Linked DNA regions of Homo sapiens. The protein of the gene in region 1 interacts with the protein of each later gene in a pairwise test. Each region holds a gene or a part of one and is shown in the gene's direction. Other genes may lie near its edges.

Region 1 (13,845 bases):
CCGCAACAGGACCACAGTCAGGATGATCACAGTCTCTGGTAAGTGGATCCCTGGAGCACTGGCAGTATGTTTTCTGGTAGAGTCTATCTGGCTTTCAGAGATGAGCCAGAAAAAAAGTTTTATTCCCAGCCTGTGTCCAACAGCACAAGCAAATCCCCAACTTTTCTCCTAAACCCTCCCAGTTTATCTCTATAGACTCTCTTCTGCCTGTTTTTCTGATTTCTCTTGGCTGACCTCGGGGCTGACCTGAGAAACGTGGAGAGGGGCCTTCGTCAGCCCCAGAGCCCTATGTCATGGAAAGGACTTCACCAAGGGGGAAGAAGGAGGGTCCTCAAGGTCAAGTTGCTTTTCTTTGTCACCAACACATGGCACCCCTGTTTCTGTTACCCCTTTGTTTTCTTTTACCTATGCCATTAGCTGCAAGAAACATCCAAGGCTTTGAAACAAGCCCACAACGTTCCCCAAATGGGAGGAGGAGCCCCTTGGATGACGGAGGAGCAGCTCAGACTGCTCCCATCTCTGCTCCCAGCTCCCTGGTGACAGGCCCTGCCCTGACTCCACCTGGGGTGGGACCCAGGTGTATGGAAAAGGTGCTCAGGTGGCCTATCCCAAATCTGGCTAAATCAAGTTGCCAGTTGAAGCCAAGCCTCCCCCCAGTCAGGCTGCACAAAAATGGGAAGACAGGGAGCCTCCGGGAAGACTCCTGAGCAGTGTCCTAGCTCTGAAGTCACGGGCTGCATGAGGCTGTGGATACAACACAGAGGACAGTGAGTGATGCACACTTGGAGACACAGGGAGATTCAGCCACAGGGTCTCTGCATGAGAGGGAAGGGGTAGTGCCAGTTGCCCAGGCTGGAGTGCAATGGCACTATCTCGGCTCACCCTCCGCCTCCTGGGTTCAAGCAATTCTCCTGCCTCAGCCTCCCAAGTAGCTGGATTACAGGCATGTGCCAACACGCCCAGCTAATTTTGTATTTTTAGTAGAGATGGGGTTTCTCCATGTTGATCAGGCTGGTCTCGAACTCCCGAACTCAGGTGATCCACCCGCCTTGGCTTCTCAAAGTGCTGGGATTACAGGCATGAGCCACCACTCCCAGCCACCATTAACTATTTCTATGCGTGCAATTTAGTGTTATGTAACCATCACCACCATCCATTTCCAGAACTTTTTCATCTTACCATATTAAATAAACTTCTCTGCCCAATAAAGAGTAACTCTCACTCCTTCTCCCTCTAACCCCTGGCAACCTCCATTCTACTTTCTGTCTCTATGTAATTGATTATTCTAACAACCTTATATAAATGGAATTATATAATAGGTGGCCTTTTGTGTCTGGCTTGTTTCACTTAACATAATGTTTTTAAGGTTCATCCATTTTGCACCATGTATCAGAATTTTCTTCCTTGTTAAGATTGAAGAACATTCCATTGTATGGATACACCTCACTTTTCTATCCACTTATCTTTCAATGGACTTTGCAGTTGTTTCCACCTTTTGGCTATTGTGTGACTAATGCTGCTGTGAACATCAGTGTACAAATATCTGTTCAAATCCCTTCCAATTCTCTTGCATATATGTCCAGAAGTGGAATTGCTGGATCCAATGGTAATTCTTTGTTTAATTGTTTGAGAAACAGCCATACTGTTTTCCACAGTGGCTATAACATTTCACACTTCCATCAGCAATGCACTAGAGCTCCAATTTTTCCACTTCCTTAAAAACACTTGTTGTTTGTGTGTGTGTGGTTTTTTTTTAATCAAAGCCATCCTAATGTGTTTGAGGTATTCTATCATTGGGGTTCTGATTTGCATATCTCTAAGTATCAGTGATGTTGAGCATCTTTGCATGTGCTCATTGGCCATTTGTATATCTTCCTTGGAGAAATCTCTATTTCAGTCTTTTGTCCTTTTTTAGTTGGGTTTTTGGATTTTTGCTGTTGTGGATTTGTAGTAGTTCTTCATATACTCTGAAAATTGATCCCTTATCATACATGATTTACAAATATTTTTCCCACTTCAAGGTTGCCTTTTCACTTCCTCGACAATGTTCTTTGATATATAAAAGTTATTGATTTTCATGAAGTCCAACTTACCCATTTTTTCTTTTGTTGCCTATGCTTTTGTTGTTATAACCAAGAAACCACTGTGAAATCCAATGTCATGGAGTTTTTTTCCCTGTGTTTTCTTCTGAGAGTTTTATAGTTTTTACTCTTACATTTGGTCTTTGATCTACTGTGGGTTAGTTTTTTGTATATGGTGTCAGGTAAAGGTTCAGCTCATCTTTCTGCATGGATTTCCAGCTTTCCCAAAATCATTTGCTGAAAAGACTGCACTTTCCCCATTGAGTGGTATTGGCATCCTTATCAAATATCATTTGGCCATATATGCAAGCATTCCTTTCTGGGCTTTCTGTTCTATTCCGCTGGTTTCTGTCTTCCTTTACGCAAGTACTGCATTGTATTGATTACTGTGGCTTTGTAGTAAATGCTGAAATCAGGATTCAGCATTTTTTTTTCAAGGTTCCTTTTTTCATGATTGGTTGGCTATTTTGAGTCCTGAAATTCCATATGAACTTTAGGATAGATTTTTCTATTTCTGCAAAAAAATGTCATTGGAATTCTGATAGAAATTGTGTTGAATCCATAGCTCACTTTGGGTGGTATTATCCTCCTAACAATACCGTGTCTTCCAATCCATGAAAACAAAATGTCTTCCCATTTTTTGAGGTCGTATTTAATTTCCTTCAGCAATGTTTTCTAGTTTTCAGAATACAATCCTTTCACCTCCTTGGTTAAACTTATGCCTAAGTATTTTATTCTTTTTGATGTTAATGTGAATTAAAATTTTTTTCTTAATTTCCTTTTTAGATTGTTCATTGTTAGTGTATAGAAATGCAACTGATGTTTGCATGCTGATTTTGTATCCTGCAACATTACTGAATTTATTAATAAATTCTAACAGGTTTTTTTCATCCTTAGAGTTTTCTACAAAGAAGTTCAAGTTGTCTGTGAACAGACAGATAATTTTACTTCTTCTTTCCAATCTGAAAGTCTTCTTTTTTTCTTGCCTAATTTCTCTGGCTAGGACTTGTAATACTATGTTAAATAGACGTGGCAAAAGCAGGCATCCTTGTCTTGTTCCTGATCATAGGGGGAAAGCTTTCAGTCTTTCTCTATTGAGTATGATGTTAGCCTTGGGCTTTTCACATACTGCCTTTATTATATTGAGATAGTTTCCTTCCATTCATACTTAGCATGTTTTTATTAAGAAAGAATGTTGAATTTTGTCAAATGAAATTTTTATTCAATCTTCCTACTAATTATAGGTCTATTCAGATTTTTTGTGTGTGTTTCTTGGAATTTGTCCATTTCATCTAGGCTATCCAATTTATTGGCATACAATTATTCATAGTACTTTTGTAAACAATATTTCTCTAGAATTGATATATAATATCTCCATTTTCTTTTCTTTCTTTCGTTTTTTTTTTGTTTGTTTTTTTTTTTTTTTTGAGAGAGAGAGAAAGACGAGTCTCACTCCTTAGGTCAGCCCAGGCTGGAGTGCAGAGGTGCGATCAAAACTCACTGCAGCCTCAACCTCCTGGGCTCAAGCAATCCTCCCAACTCAGCTTCCCAGGTAGCTGAAACTACAGGTGCATACCATCATGCCCAGCTGAATTTTTGTTTTAATTTTGTAGAGACAGGGTCTCCCTATGTTGCCCCAGCTGGTTTCAAACTCCAGGCCTCAAGCAATCCTCCCAATTTGCCTTCCCAAAGTGCTGGGATTGAAGGTGTAAGCCACCATGCTGGGAGTCCATTTTCATTTCTGATTTTAGTAATTTCCATCTTGTCTCTTTTTTTCTTAGTCAGTCTAGTTAATGGTTGGCAATTTTGTTGATCTTATTTTGAAGAACCAACTTTTGGTTTCATTGATTTCCTCTATTGTTTGTCCATTCTCCATTTCATTTATATCCACTCTAATCCTTATTACTTCCTTCATTCAATATATTTGGGTTTAGTTTGTTTTTCTCCTGTACCATGAAGTTGCAAATTAGGTTGTTGATTTGAGATGTTTCTTCTTTTTTAATGTAAGACTTAACAGTTATAAATTTCTTGCACAAGATTCTTAACTTCTCTGAGCCTCTGATTCCTCAACTGAAAATTGCAGTAACAGTGTTTGCTTCATAGCATTGTTTTAAGAGTTTTATGTAATCATCAATGAAACCTTCAGCAAAATGCCCCACACAGAGGAAATGTTTCATAAATTTTAGCTGATATATTACTACTGTTATCATTAGCTTGAAGCTGAGTAGTCCTAGAATCAAATCTCAAGTCTACTTCTCACCAGCCATATGACATCAGGAAAGTTTTTTCACCACTCTAAGCCTCTGTCGTTTCATCTGTAAAATGGAAATAATGTTCTACCCAAGAGAGTTATTGTATAAATCAAATGAGGTAAAGTATTTAGCACAGGGCCTGGCCCATAGGAGCTGCCCCTCAACAGTAGCTAACATAGCATTAATCATCAGCCTGAGTTGACTGGTGAGGGCCAAAAGTAAATGGTTCCAATAGAAATAAAGAAACAGATGCAAAAGGTTGTGTGTGTGTGTGTGTGTGTGTGTAAAAGGTATCTTAGGTAAATACACACACATATAAAAAAAAGGCAACACAGGAAACACGAGGACATGGTTACTGGTTACACGTGAAAGAGAGAAAAAAAGCTAAGTGCAAAGAATCAAACCTGGTATGTTAGTTTTTAACCCACTGAGATGCAACCAAGATGAGATTAGACACGCAAGATAATTTACTAGGAAAAACACCTGTGAGGGAAAATGGGGCAGGTGTGAGAGGAGCCTGGGAGAGCCCTCAGACCACGATGCAGATTTGATTCCTGTGAAGGAGAAAGAAAAAGAAGTTTTAGATAGCAGTGCAGTTCTAAGTGAGTTTAGGCAAGGCTGATGGGGCGTCCTCCAACTAGTCACCCATCAGAGTTAAACAGAGTCTCACAAAACTGGGCTTGCTTCCATACCCCTGCTGGGAGCCCCTGGGAAGAGAGGTCTCTGTGCAAAGGAGGTGGTCAATTTGGAATGCACTGACCTGGGCCTTCTGTCAATCAGCTCCCTGCCATAGAGACCTGCCACAACTAAGACACTGAGAAAAAGATGCAACCATGAAAAGGTGGAAAGTTCTAATGACACATAAAATAGCAATCAGCTTTTTCACATCACAAAGCCTTCAAAATATCTGAGTAAAGAAATGCCAGGATGAAATTGACCGAAGACTGATCGTCAACCTAGAAACATGGTGAGAGGAAAAAATCCTGCAAGAATATAGTTGGCTAATCACGTCCCAGCAACCTTCCCACAAAAATAATGTATTCCTTGAAAAAACAAGTAGAGACTACTTCATGCTAGGAGCTGGTTCCTGGGGTACCCCACTGTAAAATGGCATCAACTTCATTCCTTCTCTTCTTTTCTTTCCATGACAGATGCTTTAGTACAAGGAAGTTCTCCTGGCCTCTCAGCTAGAGCCACTGTCAGCATCATGATTGGAGTACTGGCCAGGGTGGCTCTGATATAGTAGCTCTGGTGTAGTTTCTGCATTTCAAGAAGACTGGCAGGTATGATGGCCTTTCCTCTTGTCCTGTTTCCTGCAGGGCTGACCGCCATGCTTGGGAGAGAGACCTGTATCCCGGGAATGGATCTCCTCCTCCTCCCAATAAACTCCTGCTTCTCAGCACTAATTCCTGCAGGTCTCTTCTTCCCTGGTCTGCATGCTCCCTGTACCCCACTGTCTCTTAGATGTGATTATTCCCAGCCTCTGCTCATTTGTTTCCCAGATTCAATACACTATGAAAGTCTTTTGATCCTTTCTTAACATCTCTCACTTGTGTCATTTTATCCATTCCCATAGACCTCAACAACTGCTCGAAGTCCTGCTTGACTTCTTGTCTCTAGTATTTGAAATCTTCCTTGCATATGATTGTCTCATTACCTTCCTAAAATCTAGTTCACTCACTTACTCAAGAATCTTCAGAGGCCTACTCTGGCCTATTTGATAAGTTCACATTTCTTCTCTTTACTAATTCTTCTCACTTCCATTCCCTCTACTCCCTAGTATAATTCCTCCATCCTAATTAGAACTGTCTTCCTACACTTCCCTGCGCATCTACCCCATATACACATAGAATTCTTAGTTCCAATGCTATGCCTAGAAACAGGGTAATCTCCCATCCACTATCTGAACTGTGGAGTTGCCCACATACCCTTCAAAGCAAGCAACCTCTGACCTCATGGAGAACAACGACTCTAGCATTAATGTGTGAACCTGAGATTCAGGACACAGCCTACGTGTGGTTGAGAACCTTTTCCTGATGACCAATTCATGTGTTCATGAAAGATACAGAAATGAAAAAGGCAAGATCCCTACCCCAGAGAACATACAGCCTAAGACAGGAGATAAGATATGAAAAATAATCATAATACCAAAATAGAAAAAAGTGAATGCCACAAGAAATCAGAGAAATCTGATGGGAAATATAGCCACACATTGGAATCACTGAGAAATGTTTTTTTAAATGATGCTCAAGCCCCATCCATAAATTCTTACCTACTATCTGGAGTGGGACCCAGGCATTGGTAATTTTTAAGCCTTCCCAGATGCTACTAACATGTAACCAGGATGGAGAACTCCTGTTCTAATAGGTAGCACATGAGGCTAAAACAATGGTTCTTTAGCTGGGAGTATTAGAATTTCCTAGAAAACTTTTTCAACATATACAAGCCTATATTTTGCTGGCCCTGTTCATTAATGGGCTCCACCAAGAACTCAGTAATCCAGTTGAGAAACAGAAGCTAAGTGGAAAAGCCACCTTATTTTATATATATATATATATATATATATATTTTTTTTTTTTTTTTTTTTTTTTTTTTTTTTTGAGACGGAGTCTCGCTCCGTCGCCAGGCTGGAGTGCAGTGGCACAATCTCGGCTCACTGCAACCTCTGCTTCCCAGGTTCAAGCAATTCTCCTGCCTCAGCCTCCCGAGTAGCTGGGATTACAGGCACCTGCCACCACGCCCAGCTAATTTTTCTATTTTTAGTAGAGACGGGGTTTCACCATGTTGGTCAGGCTGGTCTCGATCTCATGACCTTGTGATCCACCCGCCTCGGCCTCCCAAAGTGCTGGGATTACAGGCATAAGCCACCACGCCCAGCCTTACTTGATATGTTAAATTACATGGAAAGCATTGTCAATTGATAAGTGGTGCTAAACCTTCTCTAAGTTATATTTACGGTTATGTTACCGATATGAGTGTTCCAAAAATTATGAGTTTCCTAGAAATCGAATATGTTATCAGTCATAATGTCATATGCCACAGAAGTAACTAAATTTCTATGTGGCTGTGTCTTTATCATAATGAGCTCTCCTCAGAGTTTTAACCATAGTCATTTTCAATCTTTGTCATTCACAGACAGTTGTTTTTATTCTTCCTCAAAGCATTTGCAATCAGCTACCATTCAAAATTGCTTCTTCTTCAAGATTTATGGAAAATACTCTGACGAGTACTCTTGAACACAAGTTCCTGATAACTTTAAGATCACGCCACTGGACTGTCTATGAACTTGCAAACAGGCTGATACCTTTGTGAAGTTGCCCACCAAAACACAGAAGGAAAAAAACATGAATTTCATTGAACTAAATAATAATGAGGATAATGTTTTTAAGATTTTTTTTTTTTTTTTTTTGAGATGGAATCTCGCTCTGTCGCCCAGGCTGGAGTGCAGTGGCACGATCTCAACTCACTGCAAGCTCCGCCTCCTGGGTTCACACCATTCTCCTGCCTCAGCCTCCTGAGTAGCTGGGACTACAGGCGCCTGCCACAACGCCCGGCTAATTTTTTGTATTTTTAGTAGAGACGGGGTTTCACTGTGGTCTCAATCTCCTGACTTCATGGTCCGCCTGCCTCAGCCTCCCAAAGTTCTGGGATTACAGGTGTGAGCCACCGCGCCCAGCCCGTTTTTAAGATTTTTTATTTGAAAAATTGCCAATTCTTTAAGTGTTTTCTTTTTCAGATTTATGAATTTCTTTATCTTTTAAGCTATCTATACCTTACTGCAATTTGGTAAAGCAGACTTTTGTGAACAAAAATTATAACATTTACTTTTGCTCCCTACCTGACTGCCACAGAACTGGGCAACTATTCATGAGTATTCATATGTTTATGGTAATTCAGTTATTTGCACAAGTTCAGTGAGAATCTGCTGTCTTTATAATGGGATATAGTTTAAAACATTGGTTATATTACCAAGGCTTTGATTGGGATGTTATATTTGAGAAAATACAGAGAATGATAGATTAACGGAGTGTCTAATCTATCGTGTCAACCCCAAATTTTTACGTATGAGATCCTTTAGTCCACCCAATGGCTGACAGTAACAGCATCTTTAACACAACTCTTTGTTCAAATGTACTATGGTCTCTTTTAGAGTCAGACTCCTAGACTCACTTGTTCTCACTGTCTGTTTTAATTTAACCCAGGCATGCAATGCTAGATAATAAAATTGCTCCCTATTGGCTGATCAGAGAGGAGTCTGTGTAGTTTATGATGCTTCTTGTTGCACATGGATAAATATATCGGGTATTATAGAGTCTCAGTTGCAAAAATTAACAAACATGCTACTTGGTTAAAATGGCTACACTCATCTGGTTCATTCTTTTATCTATTCTATTTCAGTTGGTTTGCATCTTACCAAAGGTGCATACTCCAAACTCTTAACATTATCTTCCTCATAGTCATACTACTGGTCTCCCTGGTGTGCTGTAATCTCTAAAAGTTTTAAGTGTTTGCGTGCTGCCATCCATCAAATATCAAATGGTCTCTATTTGGCTGGAACTACATAAACTCAAAGAAATGTGTGATCAGGAGGATATCATAACCTATAAACAATGGAAGCCAAAAATGATGATAACTGAGAGTAATGCTAATGCTTTAAGCTTTGGTCACACTCTCACTTAAGTGAGAGTCTAAAGACTCCAAATTAGAGCCACTCACACTAAATGCTGCATACTCCAACTGGAATTTTAAGGAAGCAGATCTCAAAACAGACCAATGTTTTCTGAAAACAGAAGATTCCAGTCTCCCTGAGTCAACATCATAAGGAAGTCCCCTCTGCTTTAACATTTACCCCAAAAAGAGTAACCTGAAGTACCCTGATGTTAACCAATCCATTTATTTCTATGGCTCTGTCTACTGGTTCCAATTTGACAAAACCCATTGCTCTGTTATTATGTTGCCCAGGGGGAGCTATCACTGTATGTGTAGAGTGAGAGCTGCCCCAAACCCTGAATCACAATTAAAAGCCAATCAGATCTATAACTACATTAGTTGAAATTTTGTCTTCTGATGCATGTTCACAGCCAGCAATGGTTAGTGGAGTCTCAGACTGCAGCATTTTCACCCTGACCTTCCTGCCTCACTCTTTCACTTACAAGGACCCTTCTGATTACACTGGGCCACCCTAGATTATCCAGAATAACCTCCCCATCTCAAGAGTGAAGTCTTTTTGCCAAATAAAGTAACATGCACAGGTTCCATGGATAAGGATGTGGACATTTTGGGGAGGCCATTATTCTGCCTAACACTGGTAACTTCCATAAACATCACCCACAACAAAAATTTCATTTGCCTTCTTTCTATATCTCATTGTTTTGTGTGAATCACAGGCAAGAGCACAAACTTTGAGGTGAAACACACCAGCTCTGCTATGAACTGGCTGGATGATCCTGGACCACTCACTTCACCTCCTACAGCGTTTTCTCATCTGCAGCACAAAGATGACTCTTACTGTTATCAGAAAATGACAGTCAAAGAGTAAATTAAGATGTGTAAGGTATTAGACACAGAGGCTGGTACCTGATGAGCACTTGGTAAACATTCCTTTCAGTCTGTTCTTTTCTCTATCCCATTTCTCTCATCCTCACCCATCTTCTCCTTCATCTCCTCTCTCTTCATCGACTTACATACTCTTAACTTGCCATTTAGAAAGAAGTCATGCTCCCCATTCTCTCGTGACTCTGCTAGAATGTTCTTGTGATAGAGTCTGCCATCCACTCAAGACAGCCCACATTTTTTATACAAAGAGGTCTGCTTAAAACAAGAAGTCCTCTTTATGTTCACATAAATTTATATGCACTTTCTCTTAACTTACGCATACCAGTCCCAATTCTGCCCTGTTAATTCATACATGCACTTCCGTATTTCACACTTCTTCAGTCTTTCTCTTTACAAACTATAAACAAGAATAGTACTGAGACAAAAATAATAACCAGGGCTACAAGTGGGGATTCCTTTAGCAAAATGAATGTTTTCCTTTAACAAGATGAATGTTTTCCTTTGACAAGATGAATGCTATGTGCAAGGCAGCCCTGAAGCCCTTTTCTGTACTTGGCTTACATCAACGCCATTTGAGTCTACGACACATTTTTAGACAATAATTGTGACAGAAGCCACACCCATTCTGGGTATTTCTGCTGTTAGGTAAAGGCATTTTCACAGAATCTTGTGCATGAGCTACTGCTCCCCAATCCTTCCACTCCTGAAGTTAAGCTGCTTCTGCTTAACCATCTTCATCTCCGGTTGGCCTGCTAGGACCCTGGCTAGAAAATACCCCCTCATCCTACACGTCCAGGGTGGCACCTTTTCCTATTCCCATAATCATAATAGTTTGCACTGACTTAAAACTCAGTATGTGCCAGGAACTATCCTAAGATCTTTCCATGTAGTTAACATCTTCACAAAAATTCCTGGATGTTATCCCCATTTTTACAGATTAAAAAAATGAGGCAGGCTGGGCACGGTGGCTCACAACTGTAATCCCAGAACTCTGGGAGGCTGAGGCAGGTGGATCACAAGGTCAGAAGTTCAAGACTATCCTGGCCAACATCGTAAAACCCCATCTCTACTAAAAATACAAAAAAAATAGCCGGGCGTGGTGGCAGGCACCTATAGTCCCAGCTATTCGGGAGGCTGAGGCAGGAGAATGGCGTGAACCCTGGAGGCAGAGCTTGCAGTGAGCCAAGATCGTGCCACTGCACTCCAGCCTGGGCAACAGAGTGAGACTCCATCAAAAAAAACAAAAAAACAACAAAAAAAAAACGAGGCAGAGAAGTAATGTACCCAGTATCACACACCCAACTCCATAATTTAACCTCATCCTCCACTTCATCTGGGAAGAGGATACCCTGAGATTTCCAAGGTCTCCTGAATGACATACACCTTCCAGAATGATTTTTGCCCCCTCTACTTTCAGGATTTGACAAAGAGCCAGCATTTTGTTTTCTGTCTCACCCTTCACTTATGTACCTGTTCCCTAATGCTACACTCACAACTGCACAGCCCTGCATAAAAGCTAGCTTTGAGGAATCTCAGTCTCTTTTGGAAAAAAACAGAGCCAGGTTCCCAGTCATTATAAAGTCAGTTTTACTCAATTGTCAACTATTTTTACAGCCTTTCTCTGGTCATAAAAGGAGTTCCCTATGAATAGAAAGTGTAATGGGAAGGAAGTAGGAGAAGGGTGAGTTCCCATTATGGCCACAAAGAGGAAAAGATTCCAAATCCAGTAGCAGTCATAAAACACACCCAGAGTGGGTGGCTCTGAGAAATGACAGTCCCATCTGCCTCTTTTCATGCCTGTTGGCCTCTGATTTCCTTCTCAGCCTGTTCATCCTGGCCTTGCCTTCTTAGGCTAATACTAATGGCCTGGAGCTGGGGCCAGACCAGGGCACACGGCACTGAATGAGGAGAGGGAGGTAGAGGAGGCAGAAAGGGAGAAGAGTGTTTGACTCGTGGGGACCTGATTCACCTAGGTACACATCACCTGGGCAGCAAAGGGATCAGTGAAGGCCTGTGCAAGACTCATGGTGGTCATCCAGAATGATTGACTGAGGCAAGGGTCTTGACCAGTTAAGGTTTATTGAGCCAGAGCTTGAGGGTGCACCCTGGGAAAACATGAATCACAGAAAACCTCTGTGGGTGTGTTCTCTCTGAAGAGGTTGCAGAAGGCTTAGTATTTATATATTTCCTTACAGGGGGGAAGACAGGTAGAAAGAGATGGGATAGGTGGAAGAATAATTGATCTCATTTTGCCTTTGTTCTGTGCCTGGGAAGATAAATATTATCAGAATAAAACTTAACAGGCTTTAGTTTTAGGAGCTAGATTTTGATTGCACACCTGAAGTTATAATTGACATGCCTTGTTTTATGAAACGCTATACATCTTGAAAGATTTTGAGGCCAGCAAAGAACTATTTAGAGGGCAGTCATCTGGAGATCCCTGAGGCTTTTTGCCTTCCTGTTGCCCCAACCCCGCCTCCCACTTTTTTTTTAAGAAGCAAGGTCTTGCTCTGTCACCCAGGCTAGGGTATAGTGACATGATTGTAGCTCACTGCAGCCTGGAACTCCTGGGCTCAGGAGGTCCTCCCACATCAGCCTCCTGAATAGCTGAGACTACAGGCATGCACCACTGCACCCAGCTAATTTATTTTAGTTTATTTTTTGTAGAGATGTGGTCTCATTTTGTTGCTCAGGCTAGTCTTGAACTCCTGGCTTCAAGCGATCCTTCCACCTTGGCCTTTCAAAATGTGAAATTACAGGCCTGTGCCACCACACCTGCCCACCTCCAACATTCTTCTATATCTTTCAGAGAAATTACTGTTAAATACATGACTTTGTGGCTATGTTTCATCTGATCTTACATCACTATGAAGGCTCATTCCTAGGAAGTCATCTCCCATGGAAAAGGGGGTGAAGTCAAATCAGAAAAGGACCAAGGACTAATTACAGCAACAACAACAACAACAAAGTATAATCCTGGAATCCAACTGAGGATACACAACTGCCTCCTCAATTAGAGCAATTCTTTGGGCCATGATCACTAACACTTTCAGTTGCATGTTGGCTCACCTCTAATGTCTACAGCAGTCTATAGACTCATTTTTCTTTTTCTTTTTTTTTTTTTTTTTTTTTTTTTTGAGACAGAGTCTGGCTCTGTTGCCCAGGCTGGAGTGCAGTGGCGCGATCTCAGCTCACTGCAAGTTCCGCCTCCCAGGTTCACGCCATTCTCCTGCCTCAACCTCCCGAGTAGCTGGGACTACAGGCTCCCGCCACCACACCCAGCTAATTTTTTGTATTTTTTAATAGAGACGGGGTTTCACCGTGTTAGCCAGGATGGTCTCGATCTCCTGACCTCGTGATCCACCCACTTCAGCCTCCCAAAGTGCTGGGATTACAGGCGTGAGCCACCACGCCCAGCCTATAGACTCATTTTTCTAGAGTCTCTGAATCATCTAACTGCAGTGACAATCTCACAGATTTCTCTGAATTTCAGTACAAATCCAGTATTCGTGTGACCCTTTCGTGTAGTCCATGCATCAACGGGCACAAAAGTTGTTTATATATAAGTTGCTGTGACTTCTCCAAAAGTTCACTTAACTTGTCTAGTTTCAGTTTGCAGGGCTTGAAGAAAAGCACAGTTTTAATTTCTAACATTCCAAAATGGAAGAAAATCTTGAAATCATTACTTTTGATATTTATAGCCAGGAAAGAATTTAGGATTCAGTCCAAATTATAGGCAAATAATAAAACTCAAAAATAATGAACAAGCCTAGAATTTAATAACAGTTGTATTGAAGTTTTCTTTTGAAACACAAATTTTTCTCTCTCCAGGCTCCCATTTTTATGAAAGACAAATCATAGCAGGACAAATGTATTTGCTAAATAAGTTTTAGTCTTATACCTGGCCTGATTATTTGCATAAAGTATGGCAAGAATAGTGGTTGGCCATAGAGAGT
Region 2 (16,643 bases), on another chromosome or scaffold:
ACCCCTTTTACAATAGCTGCAAAAAATGAAATACTTCAGAATATTCCTAACCAAGGAGGTGAAAGACCTCTACAAGGAAAACTACAAAACACTGCTAAAAGAAATCATAGATGACACAAACAAATGGAAACACATCCCATGCTCATGGATGGGTAGAATCAATATTGAGAAAATGACCATACTGCCAAAAGTGATCTATAAATTCAATGCAATTCCCATCAAAATACCACCATCATTCTTCACAGAACTAGAAAAAAAATCCTAAAATTCATATGGAACCAAAAATGAGCCTGCATAGCCAAAACAAGACTAAGCAAAAAGAACAAACCTGGAGGGATCACGGTACCTGATTTCAAACTGTCAGGCCTCTGAGCCCAAGCTAAGCCATCATATCCCCTGTGACCTGCACGTACACATCCAGATGGCCGGTTCCTGCCTTAACTGATGACATTCCACCACAAAAGAAGTGAAAATGGCCTGTTCCTGCCTTAACTGATGACATTGTCTTGTGAAATTCCTTCTCCTGGCTCATCCTGGCTCAAAAGCTCCCCCACTGAGTACCTTGTGACCCCCCACTCCTGCCCACCAGAGAACAACCCCCTTTGACTGTAATTTTCCTTTAACTACCCAAATATTATAAAACGGCCCCACCCCTATCTCCCTTCACTGACTCTTTTCGGACTCAGCCCACCTGCACCCAGGTGAAATAAACAGCCATGTTGCTCACACAAAGCCTGTTTGGTGGTCTCTTCACTTGGACGTGCATGAAATTTGATGCCGTGACTCAGATCGGGGGACCTCCCTTGGGAGATCAATCCCCTGTCCTCCTGTTCTTTGCTCCATGAGAAAGATCCACCTACGACCTCAGGTCCTCAGACCGACCAGCCCCAGAAACATCTCACCAATTTCAAATCTGGTAAGTAGCCTCTTTTTACTCTCTTCTCCCACCTCCCTCACTATCTCTCAACCTCTTTCTCCTTTCAATCTTGGCGCCACACTTCAATCTCTCCCTTCTCTTAATTTCAATTCCTTTCATCTTCTGGTAGAGACAAAGGAGACATGTTTTATCTGTGGACCCAAAACTCTGGCACCAGTCATGGACTGGGAAGGCAGCCTTCCCTTGGTGTTTAATCATTGCAGGAATTCCTCTCTGATTATTCACCCACATTTCAGAGGTGTCAGGCCACGCAGGGACGCCTGCCTTGGTCCTTCACCCTTAGTGGCAAGTCCTGCTTTTCTAGGGGAGGGGCAAGTACCCCAACCCCTTCTCTCCATGTCTCTACCCCTTCTCTGCCTTTCTGGGGGGCAATAAACCCCCAACTCCTTCTCCTTCACCCTTAGTGGCAAGTCCTGCTTTTCTGGGGGAGGGGCAAGTACCCCAACCTCACATCTCTGTGCCCTGATCCCTTATTTCCATGCCCCAACCTCTTATATCTCTGCACCCTGATCCCTTATTTCCATGCCCCAACCTCGTATCTCTGGACCCCAACCCCTTTCCTGCTTTTCTGGAGGGTAAGAACCCCCAAACCACTTCCCTCCGTGTCTCTACTCTCCCTTTTCTTTAAACTTGCCTCCTTCACTATAGGCAACCTTCCACCCTCCATTCCTCCATCTTCTCCCTTAGCCTATGTTCTTAAGAACATAAAACCTCTTCAACTCTTGCCTGACCTAAACCTAAATGTCTTATTTTCTTCTGCAATGCCGCTTGACCCCAGTACAAACTCGACAGTGGTTCCAAATAGCCAGAAAATGGCACCTTTCAATTGTTTCCATCCTGCAAGATCTAAATAATTCTTGTTGTAAAATGGGCAAACGGTCTGAGGTGCCTGATGTCCAGGCATTCTTTTACACATCAGTTCCTCCCTAGTCTTTGTGCCCAGTGCAACTCATCCCAAATCTTCCTTCTTTCCCTCCCACCTGTCCCCTCAGTCCCAACCCCAAGCGTCACTGAGTCTTTCTAATCTGCCTTTTCTACAGACCCATCTGACCTCTCCCCTCCTCCCCAGGCTGCTCCTCGCCAGGCCGAGCTAGGTCCCAATTATTCCTCAGCCTCCACTCCTCCACCCTATAATCTTTTTATCACCTACCCTCCTCACACCCAGTCCGGTTTACAGTTTCATTCTGTGAGTAGCCCTCCCCACCTGCCCAGCAATTTCCTCTTAAAAAGGTGGCTGAAGCTAAAGGCATAGTCAAGGTTAATGCTCCTTTTTCTTTATCAGACCTCTCCCAAATCAGTGAGCGTTTAGGCTCTTTCATCAAATATGAAAAACCCAGCCCAGTTCATGGCTCGTTCGGCAGCAAACCTGAGACGCTTTACAGCCCTAGACCCTAAAAAGTCAAAAGGCTGTCTTATTCTCAATACACATTTTATTACCCAATCCTCTCCTGACATTAAATAAAACTCCAAAAATTAAATTCCAGCCCTCAAACCCCACAACAGGACTTAATTAACCTCACCTTCAAGGTGTACAATAATAGAGTAGAGGCAGCCAAGTAGCAATGTATTTCTGAGTTGCAATTACTTGCCTCCAATGTGAGACAAATCCCAGCCACATCTCCAGCACACAAGAACTCCAAACGCCTGAACCACAGCTGCCAGGAGTTCCTCCAGGACCTCCTCCCCCAGGAGCTTGCTACAGGTGCCAGAAATCTGGCCACTGGGCCAATGAATGCCCACAGCCCAGGATTCCTCCTAAGCCATGTCCCATCTGTGCGGGACCCCACTGGAAATCAGACTGTTCAACTCACCTGGCAGCCACTCCCAGAGCCCCTGGAACTCTGGCCCAAGGCTCTCTGACTGACTCCTTCCCAGATCTCCTTGGCTTAGCTCCTGAAGACTGACACTGCCTGATTGCCTGGGAAGCCTACAGGACCATCACAGACACTCTAGGTAACTCTCACAGTGGAGGGTAAGTCCGTCCCCTTCTTAATCAATACAGAGGCTACCCAGTCCACATTACCTTCTTTTCAAGGGCCTGTTTCCCTTGCCTCCATAACTGCTGTGGGTATTGACGGCCAGGCTTCTAAATCTCTTAAAACTCCCCAACTCTGGTGCCAACTTAGACAATACTCTTTTAAGCAATCCTTTTTAGTTATCTCCACCTGCCCAGTTCCCTTATTAGGCCGAGACACTTTAACTAAATTATCTGCTTCCCTGACTGTTCCTGGACTACAGCTACATCTCATTGCCGCCCTTCTTCCCAATCCAAAGCCTCCTTTGTGTCCTCCTCTTGTATCCCCCCACCTTAACCCACAAGTATAAGATATCTCTACTCCCTCCTTGGTGACCAATCATGCACCTCTTACCATCTCATTAAAACCTAATCACCCTTACCCCACTCAATGCCAATATCCTATCCCACACCATGCTTTGAAAGGATTAAAGCCTGTTATCACTCGCCTGCTACAGCATGGCCTTTTAAAGCCTATAAACTCCTCTTACAATTCCATTTTGCCTGTCCTAAAACCAGACAAGCCTTATAAGTTAGTTCAGGATCTATGCCTTATCAACCAAATTGTTTTGTCTATCCACCTGCAGTGCCCAACCCATACACTCTTTTGTCCTCAATACCTTCCTCCACAACTCACTATTCCATTCTTGATCTTAAAGATGTTTTTTTCACTATTCCCCTGCACCCCTCATCCAAGCCTCTCTTTGCTTTCACCTGGACTGACCCTGACACCCATCATCGGTCCCAGCAGCTTACCTGGGCTGTGCTGCTGCAAGGTTTCAGGGACAGCCCTCATTACTTCAGCCAAGCTCTTTCTCACGATTTACTTTCTTTCCACCCCTCCACTTCTCACCTTATTCAATATATTGATGACCTTCTTCTTTGTAGCCCCTCCTGTGAATCTTCTCAACAAGACACACTTCTGCTCCTTCAGCATTTATTCTCCAATGGATATCAGGTATCCCCCTCCAAAGCTCAAATTTCTTCTCCATCCGTTACCTACCTTGGCATAATTCTTCATAAAAACACACGTGCTCTCCCTGCCGATCATGTCCCACTAATCTCTCAAACCCCTACCCCTTCTACAAAACAACAACTCTTTTCCTTCCTGGGCATGTTTAGATACTTTCACCTTTGGATACCTGGTTTTGCCATCCTAACAAGACCATTCTATAAACTCACAAAAGGAAACCTAGCTGACCCCATAGATCCTAAATCCTTTCCCCACTCCTCTTTCCATTCCTTGAAGACAGCTTTAGAGACTGCCCCCACTCTAGCTCTCCCTGACTCATCCCAACCCTTTTCATTACACACAGCCGAAGTGCAGGGCTGTGCAGTCAGAATTCTTACACAAGGACCAGGATCGCGTCCTGTAGCCTTTTTGTCCAAACAACTTGACCTTACTGTTTTAAGCTGGCCATTATGTCTCTGTGCAGTGGCTGCTGCCACCCGAATACTTTTAGAGGCCCTTAAAATCACAAACTATGCTCAACTCACTCTCTACATTTCTCATAACTTCCAAAATCTATTTTCTTCCTCATACCTGATGCATATACTTTCTGCTCCCTGGCTCCTTCAGCTGTACTCACTCTTTGTTAAGTCCCACAATTACCATTGTTTCTGGCCCGGACTTCAATCCGGCCTCCCACATTATTCCTGATACCACACCTGACCCCCACAACTGTATCTCTCTGATCCACTTGACATTCACCCCATTTCCCCATATTTCCTTCTTTCCTGTTCCTCACCCTGATCACACTTGATTTATTGATGGCAGTTCCACCAGGCCTAATCACCACACACCAGCAAAGGCAGGCTATGCTATAGTACAAGCCACTAGCCCACCTCTTAGAACCTCTCATTTCCTTTCCATCGTGGAAATCTATCCTCAAGGAAATAACTTCTCAGTGTTCCATCTGCTATTCTACTACTCCTCAGGGATTATTCAGGCCCCCTCCCTTCCCTACACATCAAGCTTGAGGATTTGCCCCCATCCAGGACTGGCAAATTAGCTTTACTCAACATGCCCTGAGTCAGATAACTAAAATACCTCTTAGTCTAGGTAGACAGTTTCACTGGATAGGTAGAGGCCTTTCCTACACAGTCTGAGCAGGCCACCGCAGTCATTTCTTCCCTTCTGTCAGACATAATTCCTCAGTTTAGCCTTCCCACCTCTATACAGTCTGATAACAGACAAGCCTTTATTACTCAAATCAGCCAAGCAGTTTTTCAGGCTCTTAGTATTCAGTGAAACCTTTATATCCCTTATGGTCCTCCATCTTCAAGAAAAGTAGAACTGACTAAAGGTCTTTTAAAAACACACCTCACCAAGCTCAGCCACCAACTTAAAAAGGACTGGACAACACTTTTACCACTTTCCCTTCTCAGAAGTCAGACCTGTCCTCAGAATGCTACAAGGTACAGCCCATTTGAGCTCCTGTAGAGATGCTCCTTTTTATTAGGCCCCGGTCTCATTCCAGACAGCAGACCAACTTAGACTGTGCCCCAAAAAAAACTTGTCATCCCTACTATCTTCTATCTAGTCATACTCCTATTCACCATTCTCAACTACTCATACATGCCCTCCTCTTGTTTACACAGCTGGTTTACACTGTTTCTGCAAGCCATCACAGCTGATATCTCCTGGCGCTATCCCCAAACTGCCACTCTAAACTCTTGAAGTAAATAAATAATCTTTGCTAGCAGGACTATGCTGAATCTCCTTAGGCACTCTCTAATTAGATGTCCTGGGTCCTCCCAATTCTTAGACCTTTTATACCTGTTTTTCTCCTTCTCTTATTCCATTTACTTTTTCAATTCATATAAAACCATATCCAGGCCATCACCAATAATTCTACATGATAAATGTTTCTTCTAATAACCCCACAATATCATCCCTTACCACAAAATCTTCCTTCAGCTTAATCTCTCCCATTCTAGGTTCCCACGCTGCCCCTAATCCCGCTCAAAGCAGCCCTGAAAAACATCACCCATTATCTCTCTATACCACCCCCAAAAATTTTCACCATCCCAACACTTTACCACTATTTCACTTTATTTTTCTTATTAATATAAGAAGACCAGAATGTCAGGCCTCTGAGCCCAAGCTAAGCTATCATATCCCCTGTGACCTGCACGTACACATCCAGATGGCTGGTTCCTGCCTTAACTGATGAGATTCCACCACAAAAGAAGTGAAAATGGCCTGTTCCTGCCTTAACTGATGACATTGTCTTGTGAAATTCCTTCTCCTGGCTCATCCTGGCTCAAAAGCTCCCCCACTGAGTACCTTGTGACCCCCACTCCTGCCCACCAGAGAACAACCCCCTTTGACTGTAATTTTCTTTTACCTACCCAAATCTTATAAAATGGCCCCACCCCTATCTCCCTTCACTGACTCTCATTTCAGACTCAGCCCACCTGCACCCAGGTGAAATAATGCTCACACAAAACCTGTTTGGTGGTCTCTTCACATGGATGCACATGAAACAAACTACACTATAAGGCCATAGTCACCAGAACAGCATGGTACTGCTATAAAAATAGGCACATAGACCAATGGAACAGAATAGAGAACCCAGAAATAAACTCAAATACTTACAGCCGACTAACCTTCAACAAAGCATACAAAAACATAAAGTGGGGAAAGAACACCCTATTCAACAAATAGCCCTGGGATAGTTGGCAAGCCACATGTAGGAGAATAATCCTGGATCCTCATCTTTCACGTTATAAAAATCAACTCAAGATGGATCAAGGACTTAAATCTATGACCTGAAAATATAAAAATTCTACAAGATAACATCAGAAAAACCCTTCTAGACATTGGCCTAGGCGAAGATTTCATGACCAAGAACCCAAAAGCAAATGCAACAAAAACAAAGATAAATAGGTGGGACTTAACTAAAGACCTTTTGCACAGCAAAAGGAAGAGTCAGCAAAGTAAACAGACAACCCACAGAGTGAGAGAAAATCTTCACAATCTATACATCCAACAAAGGACTAATATGCAGAATCTACAAGGAACTCAAACAAATTAGCACGAAAAAATAATCCCATCAAAAAGGGGGCTAACAGCCGGGCGTGGTGGCTCACTCCTGTAATCCCAGCACTTTGGGAGGCCGAGGCTGGTGGATCACCTGAAGTTGGGAGTTTGAGACCAGCCTGATCAACATGGAGAAACCCCATCTCTACTAAAAATACAAAATTAGCCCGGCATGGTGGCGCATGCCTGTAATCCCAACTACTCAGGAGGCTGAGGCAGGAGAATTGCTTGAACTCAGGAGGCAGAGGTTGCAGTGAGCCAAGATCACACCATTGCACTCCAACCTGGGCAACAAGAGTGAAACTCCATCTCAAAAAAAAAAAAAAAAAAAAGTGGGGGGTGCACTAAGGACATGAACAGACAATTCTCAAAACAAGATATACAAATGGCCAACAAACATGAAAAAATGCTCAACATCACTAATGATCAGGGAAATGCAAATCAAAACCACAAAACAATACCACCTTACTCCCACAAGAATGGCCATAATCAAAAATCAAAAAATAATAGATGTTGGCGTGGATGTGGTGAAAAGGGAATACTTCCACACTGCTTGTGGGAATGTAAACTAGTACAACCACTATGGAAAACAGTGTGGAGAATCCTTAAAGAACTAAAAGTAGAACTACCAAGAAATACCATTTCGTCCAGCAATCCCACTACTGGGTATCTACCCAGAGGAAAAGAAGTCATTATACGAAAAAGATACTTGTATATGCACGTTTATGGCAGCACAATTCACAACTGCAAAAATGTGGAAGCAGCCCAAATGCCCATCAATCAACGAGTGGATAAACAAACTGTAGCATATATATATTTATATATATATGTGTGTGTGTATATATGTGTGTATATATGTATATATCTATACATATATAGAGAGTAGTATTCCATCATACATATATATATGATGGAATACTACTCAGCCATAAAAAGGAGTGAATTAATGGCATTCACAGCAACCTGGATGGGATTGGAGACTATTATTCTCAGTGAAGTAACTCAGGAATGGAAAACCAAACATCGTATGTCCTCACTCGTGAGAGGTAGCTAAGCTATGAGGATGCAAATGCATAAGAAGGATACAATGGACTTTGGGGACTGGGACTCAGGGGGAAAGTGCAGGAAGGGCGTGAAGGATAAAAGACTACAAATTGGGTTCAAGGCATACCGCCCAGGTGACGGGTGCACCAAAATCTCACAAATCACCACTAAAGAACTTACTCATGTAACCAAACACCACCACCTATGGAAATAAAAATTTAAAAACCTATGGAAATAAAAAAATTAAAAATAAATAAAAAAATAAACATAAGTTCCAATTTCAGGCCATCTCTTTGTGAATGCATATGACTGTACACTTTCAGAAAAAGGTATGTCACATCTTGAATGCTTTGCTGCTTAGAAATTTCTTCTGCCAGATGCCCTAAATCATCTCTCTCAAGCTCAAAGTTCCACAGATCTCTAGGGTAGGGCCAAAATGTCACCAATCTCTTTGCTAAAGCATAGCAAGAGTGACCTTTACTCCAGCTTCCAATAAGTTCCTCATCTCCAACTGAGAGCACCTCAGCCTGAACTAAAAAAAAAAGGGGGGGGGGTTATCTAGACAGTGTTTCTTAAATTCCAATAGAGTTTGTCATGCATTTTTTATTATGTATTCCTGATTTTGATAGTTTAATCTGCCTGCAAAATGAACGTCAAAATATTTGTGAGGTTTTTTTTGGTTGTTGTTGTTTGTTTCTTTTTTTTGAGACAGGGTCTCACTCTCTCATCAGTGCAACATGTGATCCCGGCTCACTGCAGCCGCACATTCCCCGGCTCAAGCAATCCGCCCACCTCAGCCTCCTGAGTAGCTGGGACTACAGGCGCACACCATCACACCTGGCTAACTTTTGTATTTTTTGTAGAGATGGAGTCTCCCTATATTGCCCAGGCTGGTCTCAAACTCCTAGCCTCAAGCCATCCGCCCGCCTCGGCCTCCCAAGTGCTGGAATTACAGGCGTGGGCCACCGCACCCAGCCTTATTTGTATTCTTTATGTCCAAGTGTACAATTCATTTCCGTATTAGAAACGATCCATGCACAATCTCACGAAAACATGTTATCTACTGAAGGAATCTGAATTCTTCCATTTATCTATCTAATCACTTACTGATTGAATGATTCAGTTCTTCCAAAAAACGTATCCTTAGGTTTTTATCAAACTACCGTCTGTTCCGATTCTGGGGGCCTGTATATTAAAATCTCCCACTACACGAGTATATCTCATTATCTCTGCATTTCTATTAGTGTCCCCTTTTCTTCAGTTGCCGCCTTGTTCAGTGCACGGGTCAACTCTGAAAAAAAGGGGAACAGAAGGGTCTCTGGCCTCAGGGCTAGTGGGACCAGGTCTGGGGCTGAACCACAGAGTCGCCCCGGCCTCCCGCCATCTAGAGAGGCTACGCTGCCCCAGATAGAACGAGCGGCGGGCCGGAATTCGGGGCGGGACTTCCGGGGGTCAGCCGGCGTTGGCTGAGACGTCTTCGTGCCACGGTGCTGCCTCCTTTCCAAGCGCGACCCGTTGAGGTTAGTTCCGCGAAGCTCCACGCCTGGGACCCTGCGTCTGGTTGTCCCTGATGCCCCCGTGGTTGGGGGGCCCAGGGGCCTCTCAGGGCTCAGACGGGGCGGGCAGCGAGCTGGGGACCCCGGGCGGGGGCGGAGCCGCGCGGGGGGTTGTGGGAGCGCGGGGGGGGCGGGGCGGGGGCAGCTCGGCCTGGGCTGGAGGTCAGAGCCTCTGGGGGCTGCCTCCGGTAGGGGGTCTCCGGGGAGACCCCGGGGTAAGGTCGCCGCGAGGGGCCGAGCCAGGACTCCGCCCACAGGCTGGTGGCGTTCCCGCCTGTCGGTGCCACCATTCGAGCTCGGGCGGAGCGACGGGGTGAAGGGGTGGCCTGCCCTTCCACACCTGTGGGATATCTCATCAGGTGGGACGAGAGACTGAGAAAAGAAATAAGACAAAGTGTAGAGAAACAACAGTGGGCCCAGGAGACCGGCACTCGGCACACTAAGGACCTGCACCGGCACCGGTCTCTGAGTTCTCTTAGTTTTTATTGATTATTATTTTCATTATCTCAGCAAGAGGAATGCAGTAGGAGAGCAGGGTGATAATAGGGAGAAGGTCAGCAAAAAAAAGCATGTGAGCAAAAGAATCTGTGCCATAATTAAGTTTAAGGGGAGGTACTATGCCTGGATGGGCACGTAGGCCAGATTTGTTTCTCTCCACCCAAACATCTCAGTGGAGTAAAGAATAACAAGGCAGCATTGCTGCCAACATGTCTCACCTCTCACCATAGGGCAGTTTTTCTCCTGTCTCAGAATTGAACAAATGTACAATCGGGTTTTATACCGAGACATTCAGTTCCCAGGGGCAGGCAGGAGAGAGTGGCCTTCCTCTATCTCAACTGCAAGAGGCTTTTCTCTTTTACCAATCCACCTCAACACAGACCCTTTACGGGCGTTGGGCTGGGGGACGGTCAGGTCTTTCTCATCCCATGAGGCCATATTTCAGACTATCACATGGGGACAAATCTTGGACAATACCCGGCTTTCCAAGGCAGAAGTCCCTGTGGCTTATCGCAGAGCATTGTGCCCCTGGTTTATTGAGACTGGAGAATGGCGATGACTTTTACCAAGCATCTGCTTGTAAACATTTTGTTAACAAGGCACATCCTGCACAGCCCTAGATCCCTTAAACCTTGATTCCATACAACACATGTTTTTGTGAGCTCAAAGTTGTGGCAAAGTGGCTGGGGCAAAGTTACAAATTAACAGCATCTCAGCAAAGCAATTGTTCAAGGTACAGGTCAAAATGGAATTTCTTATGTCTTCCTTTTCTACACAGACACAGTAACAGTCTGATCTTTCTTTCTTTTCCCTACATGGGGCAGCAGTGCGATGGGGTGGTTCCCAGCGCATGGGAGACAAGGGTGGGTTCGTGGTTCCTGGTGTTCCATGAGAAGTCAGAGATGCACTGAGCAGAGCTGGGGGAGAAAGGGGGTTTCGCTCAGCCTCAGATGTCCTGCCTGGGAGGCCCAGTCAGTAGTGGAGTCGCTCTGCGTGTGGAGGAGGTACTCTGGGAAGGGAGGAGAGTTTGGGCCAGTTCTTCCCCAAGGGGGAAGGTGCTGAGGGATCGGCCAGGGCCCATCCTGTGGCTGCTTGCTATGGGAGGGTGGTGGCTGGCTCTTCCAGTTGTGTGACTCCTAAAGAGCAGGCTTAGCCTCTAGCCAGGAGACTCCACTTCCAAGCTTGTTCAGGCTGTTGGCCGAATCTGTTTTTCTTGAGGTTGGTCCTCAGAAGTGCTGGCTGCCAGCCTGAGTGATCCTTAGCTCTCCGAGGTCCTTCCATGTGGCCCTCAGATCTTTCTCAGGCTTTTAAGGGCTCATTTGATTAGATTGGGTCCACCAGGGTAATTCACGTCCATAACCTTAATTCCCTTTGCAAAGTCCTTTTTGGTATGTAGTGTAACATAAGCACAAGTTCCAGGGATTAGGATATGGACCTGGGTGAGAGGGGGCATTTATTCTGTGTCCTGGTAAGCAAGATCCCACACATAATGAAGTGAGAAAAATAAGGTGTGAAGCCATAGCATAGTTGGGTGTAATTTATCATTAAAAGGCAAACATATGTTTATATATTTGCTGTGTAAACCTAGATTAATCTGGAACGGTACACTAGAAACAAGGGAAACTGTGTGGATGTTTGGGGAATTTTTCACCATAAATCCTTTTTACCTTTTAAATTTTGAGGTGACTATGCCCCTATTCAGAAACAATGAGAATTTAAAGTATTTTTAAATAAAATGAACTAAATAAATATTGCAGATTATTACATCACCACTTGGATGGGGAGAGGTTTCCCTCGAGGAAACTGGGCATCTGCACTGTAAGGGCAGGCAGATGCAGTCACAGAGGGCCTTGTCACCCCCATCGCCCATGTCTCCTCCATTTCTGCTGCCACGTGGTAGGCACCTTAGTGCTGTACCTGCTTTGAATCTCATCTCCCACCATTCCTCTGAGCACCCTGCCAAGTTAATCTTGAGATATTAGTTTTGTCTCTCCTGACACAGAAATGTGGCCAGTGTTTCACCTTCATCTGGCAGCCAAGGCCCCTTATCATTGGTCCATAGTAACCATCCCTGTGAGCTCTGTTCATATCTCCTTGCCTTCTCCTTGATGGTGATCTGAGTCCAGGAGCACCACCCAGCCCTTCTTTCTTCCCCACATGGCCTATGGGTGACACGTACCATCACGTTGACTCCCTGCACCATCCTTCTGCCACCTTTCTTCACATCCCCTTTGCAGATCCCCTTGACCACACCCTCATTCTCAGCTGGTGCTCATGAAGGACAGAAGAGTCAATGTCAGTACAATGTGAGTGAAGGGCTGAGGTATGTCAGTGCTCCCAGTGGGCACCCGGGCAGGGTATGGTGCATTTACACAGTGAGGGGTGGGGGAATCAGTAACATGTGAGGAGCCCGTCATGCCGCCACGTGGGAGTGTCCTCTCTCCTGCTCACAGGGAGTAGTTAGGACTGGAGATGAGCCCAAGTTTGTGAATCTTAACAAGGGTGTTGATGCCTCAAGACTGGACATAATCACCAAGGAAGTTGGTGGCAGTGCAGAAGTGCACACTGGGGTGCCAACATGAAATGGGGAATGAGAGGCTAGGAGGGAGTAGCTGGTGCAAGTAAAGATGGGAACACCTGCTGTGGGTGCTGCCAGGATGGTGCAACTCAGATAGAACTGACCACTAGGATTTGGTAGGCGTTGACACATAATGATGACATGTGGGGCTGCAGCACAGGCTGCCCCTGGCTGTTCACCCTTTGGAGCTGCTGTTCTCCCACTCTAGGTGGGTCTGGCCTGCCCAGCTTCAGAGCATTGTGAATGTCAGCAACAAGGAGTGAGAAGAGTGGTCACAGCAGGATACAGGCCCACAGCAGGATACAGGCCCACAGCAGGATACAGGCCCCACAACAGGACACAGGCCCACAGCAGGATACAGGCCCGCAGCAGGGTACAGGCCCGCAGCAGGGTACAGGCCCCACAGCAGGGTACAGGCCCCACAGCAGGACACAGGCCCCACAGCAGGACACAAGCCCAACAGCAGGACACAAGCCCAACAGCAGGACACAGGCCCACAGCAGGACACAGGCCCACAGCAGGGTACAGGCCCACAGAAGGGTATGGCCCACAGCAGGGTACAGGCCCCACAGCAGGACACAGGCCCACAGCAGGGTATGGCCCACAGTAGGGTACAGGCCCACAGCAGGACACAGGCCCAACAGCAGGACACAGGCCCAACAGCAGGATACAGGCCCACAGCAGGACACAGCCCCACAGCAGGACACAGGCCCACAGCAGGACACAGGCCCACAGCAGGGTACAGGCCCACAGAAGGGTATGGCCCACAGCAGGGTACAGGCCCCACAGCAGGACACAGGCCCCACAGCAGGACACAAGCCCAACAGCAGGACACAGGCCCAACAGCAGGATACAGGCCCACAGCAGGACACAGCCCCACAGCAGGACACAGGCCCACAGCAGGACACAGGCCCACAGCAGGGTACAGGCCCACAGAAGGGTATGGCCCACAGCAGGGTACGGGCCCCACAGCAGGACACGGGCCCACAGCAGGGTATGGCCCACAGTAGGGTACAGGCCCACAGTAGGACACAGGCCCAACAGCAGGACACAGGCCCAACAGCAGGACACAAGCCCAACAGCAGGATACAGACCCACAGCAGGACACAGGCCCACAGCAGGGTACAGGCCCCACAGCAGTACACAGGCCCCACAGCAGGACACAGACCCTGTGGGGGCTGCCCTCCTATCATGGCAGGTCTGGGCACCATGACCCACTTTACCTTAGGGTCAGCATCTTGCCCCTTTGTACTGTGGCCCTGGCTTTTGAGTCTGTGTCTCCATGGCTGACTCCCTCTTTTTAGGTCCAAGATCAGGAAACACAGCATCAGCCCCTGAGACCTGGCAGCACCAGGCCCTCTTCAGGTCTTGGGCTGCAGGGGTGGAGGAAGAGACCCCGGCCTGATGGGAGGATGAATCCCTAGAGCTAGCCTGTCTGTAGACTCACCTGTGTTCTTGCCGGTTTTCAGGTCCTTGTCATGCCCAGCCTCAGAACTCGCCGTGAGGAGGCAGAGATGGAGCTCTCAGTTCCAGGACCATCCCCCTGGACCCCTGCAGCCCAGGCCCGTGTGAGAGATGCTCCTGCTGTGACCCACCCTGGATCTGCAGCCTGTGGTACCCCCTGCTGTAGTGATACTGAGCTGGAAGCCATCTGCCCTCACTATCAGCAGCCAGGTACTTTAAGAACAGTTCTCCGCTGGTGCCCTTATTCTGGGGAAGTGATGTCCATGGAACCCTGTGCTTACCCCTAGGAGGCATCTGTGTCATCACAGGTAGGGAGGGTGACGGGGTACTCTGACTCAAGGAGCCAAGGCTGGATGTCAGCAAGGAAGTTAACCTAGCCTGGCCCCTGGCACCTTGAGCAGAACTGTGATTTCCCCACTTGACACGAAGAGGTATGACATGATGGCCACCAGCGTCCTTTGATTTGCCCTATACTCCTGACCCCTTCCCAATTCAACAACCAGGCTGGTGGCAGCCCTCTCCCCTCAGGACTCTACTCTGGTCCAGGGCTTTGTACTGTGGTTACCCATACAGTTGGCCATCTAAAGCCTAGGAAGAAAAGCTGAGGAGTTTCTTGTGGGGAAATAGAGGCATTCAAAAGCACCCTTGGCCCGGGTGTGGTGGCTCATACCTATAATCTGAGCACTTTGAGAGGCCAAGGCAGGAGGATTGTATGAGGCCAGGAGTTCAGGACCAGCCAGTATAACATGGCAAGACCCTATCTCTACTAAAAAATTAAGAAAGGCTGGGTGTGATCACTCTCGCCTGTAATCCCAGCACTTTGGGAGGCCGAGGTGGGTGGATTGCTTGAGGCCAGGAGTTCGAGACAAGCATGGCTAACATGGTAAAACCCTGTCTCTACTAAAAGTACAAAAATTAGCCAGGTGTGGTGGCACATACCTGTAATTCCACCTACTTGGAAGGCTGAAGCACAAGAATTGCTTGAACCTGGTAGGCAAGGGTTGCAGTGAGCTAAGATCATGCCACTGCACTCTAGCCTGGGCAACTGGAGTGAGGCTCTGTCTCAGAAAAAAATACATAAATTTGAAAAAAAAAAAAGCACCTATATATTTTGGGGAATCCAGGAAGTCACATGCATGCGCAGGACTGGGTGTGTGCTCAGAAAAGACCTGTTAAGACCATAAGCTTTCTCAAGAACTCTGTCTAATCTCTAGGCTCAGTGAAGGCAGTCAACTCAGAAAGAGTTGTAAACAGCGTTTAAAAAGTACCCCAACACAGAGTCAATCCACAAAGACTGGGAGAAGTGTTTTGTGTTGGTTTTTCTCTTGATAAAATCTCTGTCAAAACACTGGTTGAACACAAGCTAAAGAAAAAGACTTCAGTGACTGTACTCGACAAAGAATAGTCTTTGCAAAAATAGTTTGGAAAAGTCACTAAATGAACATGTGACTCTAGTCTTCAACAATCAAAAACAGCAAAGCCTGGAGGGGGGATACCACATTTTAATATTCAGTTGTGCAGTTTTTAACAAAGCAAAAATCATGAAGCATATAACGAAGCAAAAAAATATGTCCCATTCAAAGGAAAAAAGTAAACTGACAAAAAGTGTCCTGGAGAAAGCACAGACATTGGACTTAAGTAGACAAAAACTTCAAATCAACTGCCTCAAATATGCTCAGAGAGGTGAAAGAAACCATAGAGAACTAGGCTGGGCATGGTGGCTCACACCTGTAACCCAGCACCACGGTGGCTCACACCTGTAACCCAGCACCACGGTGGCTCACGCCTGTAACCCAGCACCACGGTGGCTCACGCCTGTAACCCAGCACCACGGTGGCTCACGCCTGTAACCCAGCACCACGGTGGCTCATGCCTGTCATCCCAGCACTTTGGGAGGCTGAGGCAGGTGGATCACGAGGTCAGGAGATCAAGACCATCCTGGCTAACAAGGTGAAACCCCATCTCAACTAAAAATACAAAAAATTAGCTGGGCATGGTGGCAGGCACCTGTAGTCCCAGCTACTCTGAAGACTGAGGCAAGAGAATGGCATGAACCCAGGAGGCGGAGCTTGCAGTGAGCTGAGATCACACCACTGCACTCCAGCGTGGGTGACAGAGTGAGACTCCGTCTCAAGAAAAAAAAAAAGAAAAAAAGAAAAAAAAAAACCATAGAGAACTAAAAGAACCAGGAAAATGATGTGTGAACAAAATGAAAATATCAATAAGAAATACAAATTGTAAAAGAAACATAGAAAGTCTGGAACTAAAAAATGAAATGGAAATTTTGCTAGAGGGTTTCAGCAGTAGATTTGAGCAGGCAGAAAAATCGGCAACTTGAAGATAGGATAATTGAAATCATTCAGTCTGAGGAGAAAAAAGATCTAAGAAAAGTGAACTTAATGGCTGGGCGTTGTGGCTCACGCCTGTCATCCCAGCACTTTGGGAGGCCGAGGCAAGCAGATCACTTGAGGTCAGGAGATCGAGAGAATCTTGGCCAACGTGGTGAA

Evidence for each region.
Region 2: the proteins of CEACAM8 (region 1) and ZNF16 interact in a two-hybrid assay, tested with the Homo sapiens proteins (one study listed by IntAct).

The regions. Positions count from the first base shown.
Region 1 is NC_000019.10:42,574,977-42,588,821, reverse strand, and holds the end of CEACAM8 (cell adhesion molecule CEACAM8 precursor), read left to right. Parts: coding exon 1-38; intron 39-417; coding exon of another isoform or gene 418-707; exon of another isoform or gene 708-906; intron 907-5,113; coding exon of another isoform or gene 5,114-5,143; exon of another isoform or gene 5,144-5,300; intron 5,301-5,484; coding exon 5,485-5,576; 3' UTR 5,577-5,616; intron 5,617-7,468; 3' UTR 7,469-8,579; downstream 8,580-13,845. UniProt on the Homo sapiens protein: Cell surface glycoprotein that plays a role in cell adhesion in a calcium-independent manner. Mediates heterophilic cell adhesion with other carcinoembryonic antigen-related cell adhesion molecules, such as CEACAM6.
Region 2 is NC_000008.11:144,943,714-144,960,356, reverse strand, and holds the start of ZNF16 (zinc finger protein 16), read left to right. Parts: upstream 1-9,476; 5' UTR 9,477-9,560; intron 9,561-9,733; exon of another isoform or gene 9,734-9,955; intron 9,956-12,331; exon of another isoform or gene 12,332-12,417; intron 12,418-14,141; 5' UTR 14,142-14,150; coding exon 14,151-14,346; exon of another isoform or gene 14,347-14,444; intron 14,445-16,643. UniProt on the Homo sapiens protein: Acts as a transcriptional activator. Promotes cell proliferation by facilitating the cell cycle phase transition from the S to G2/M phase.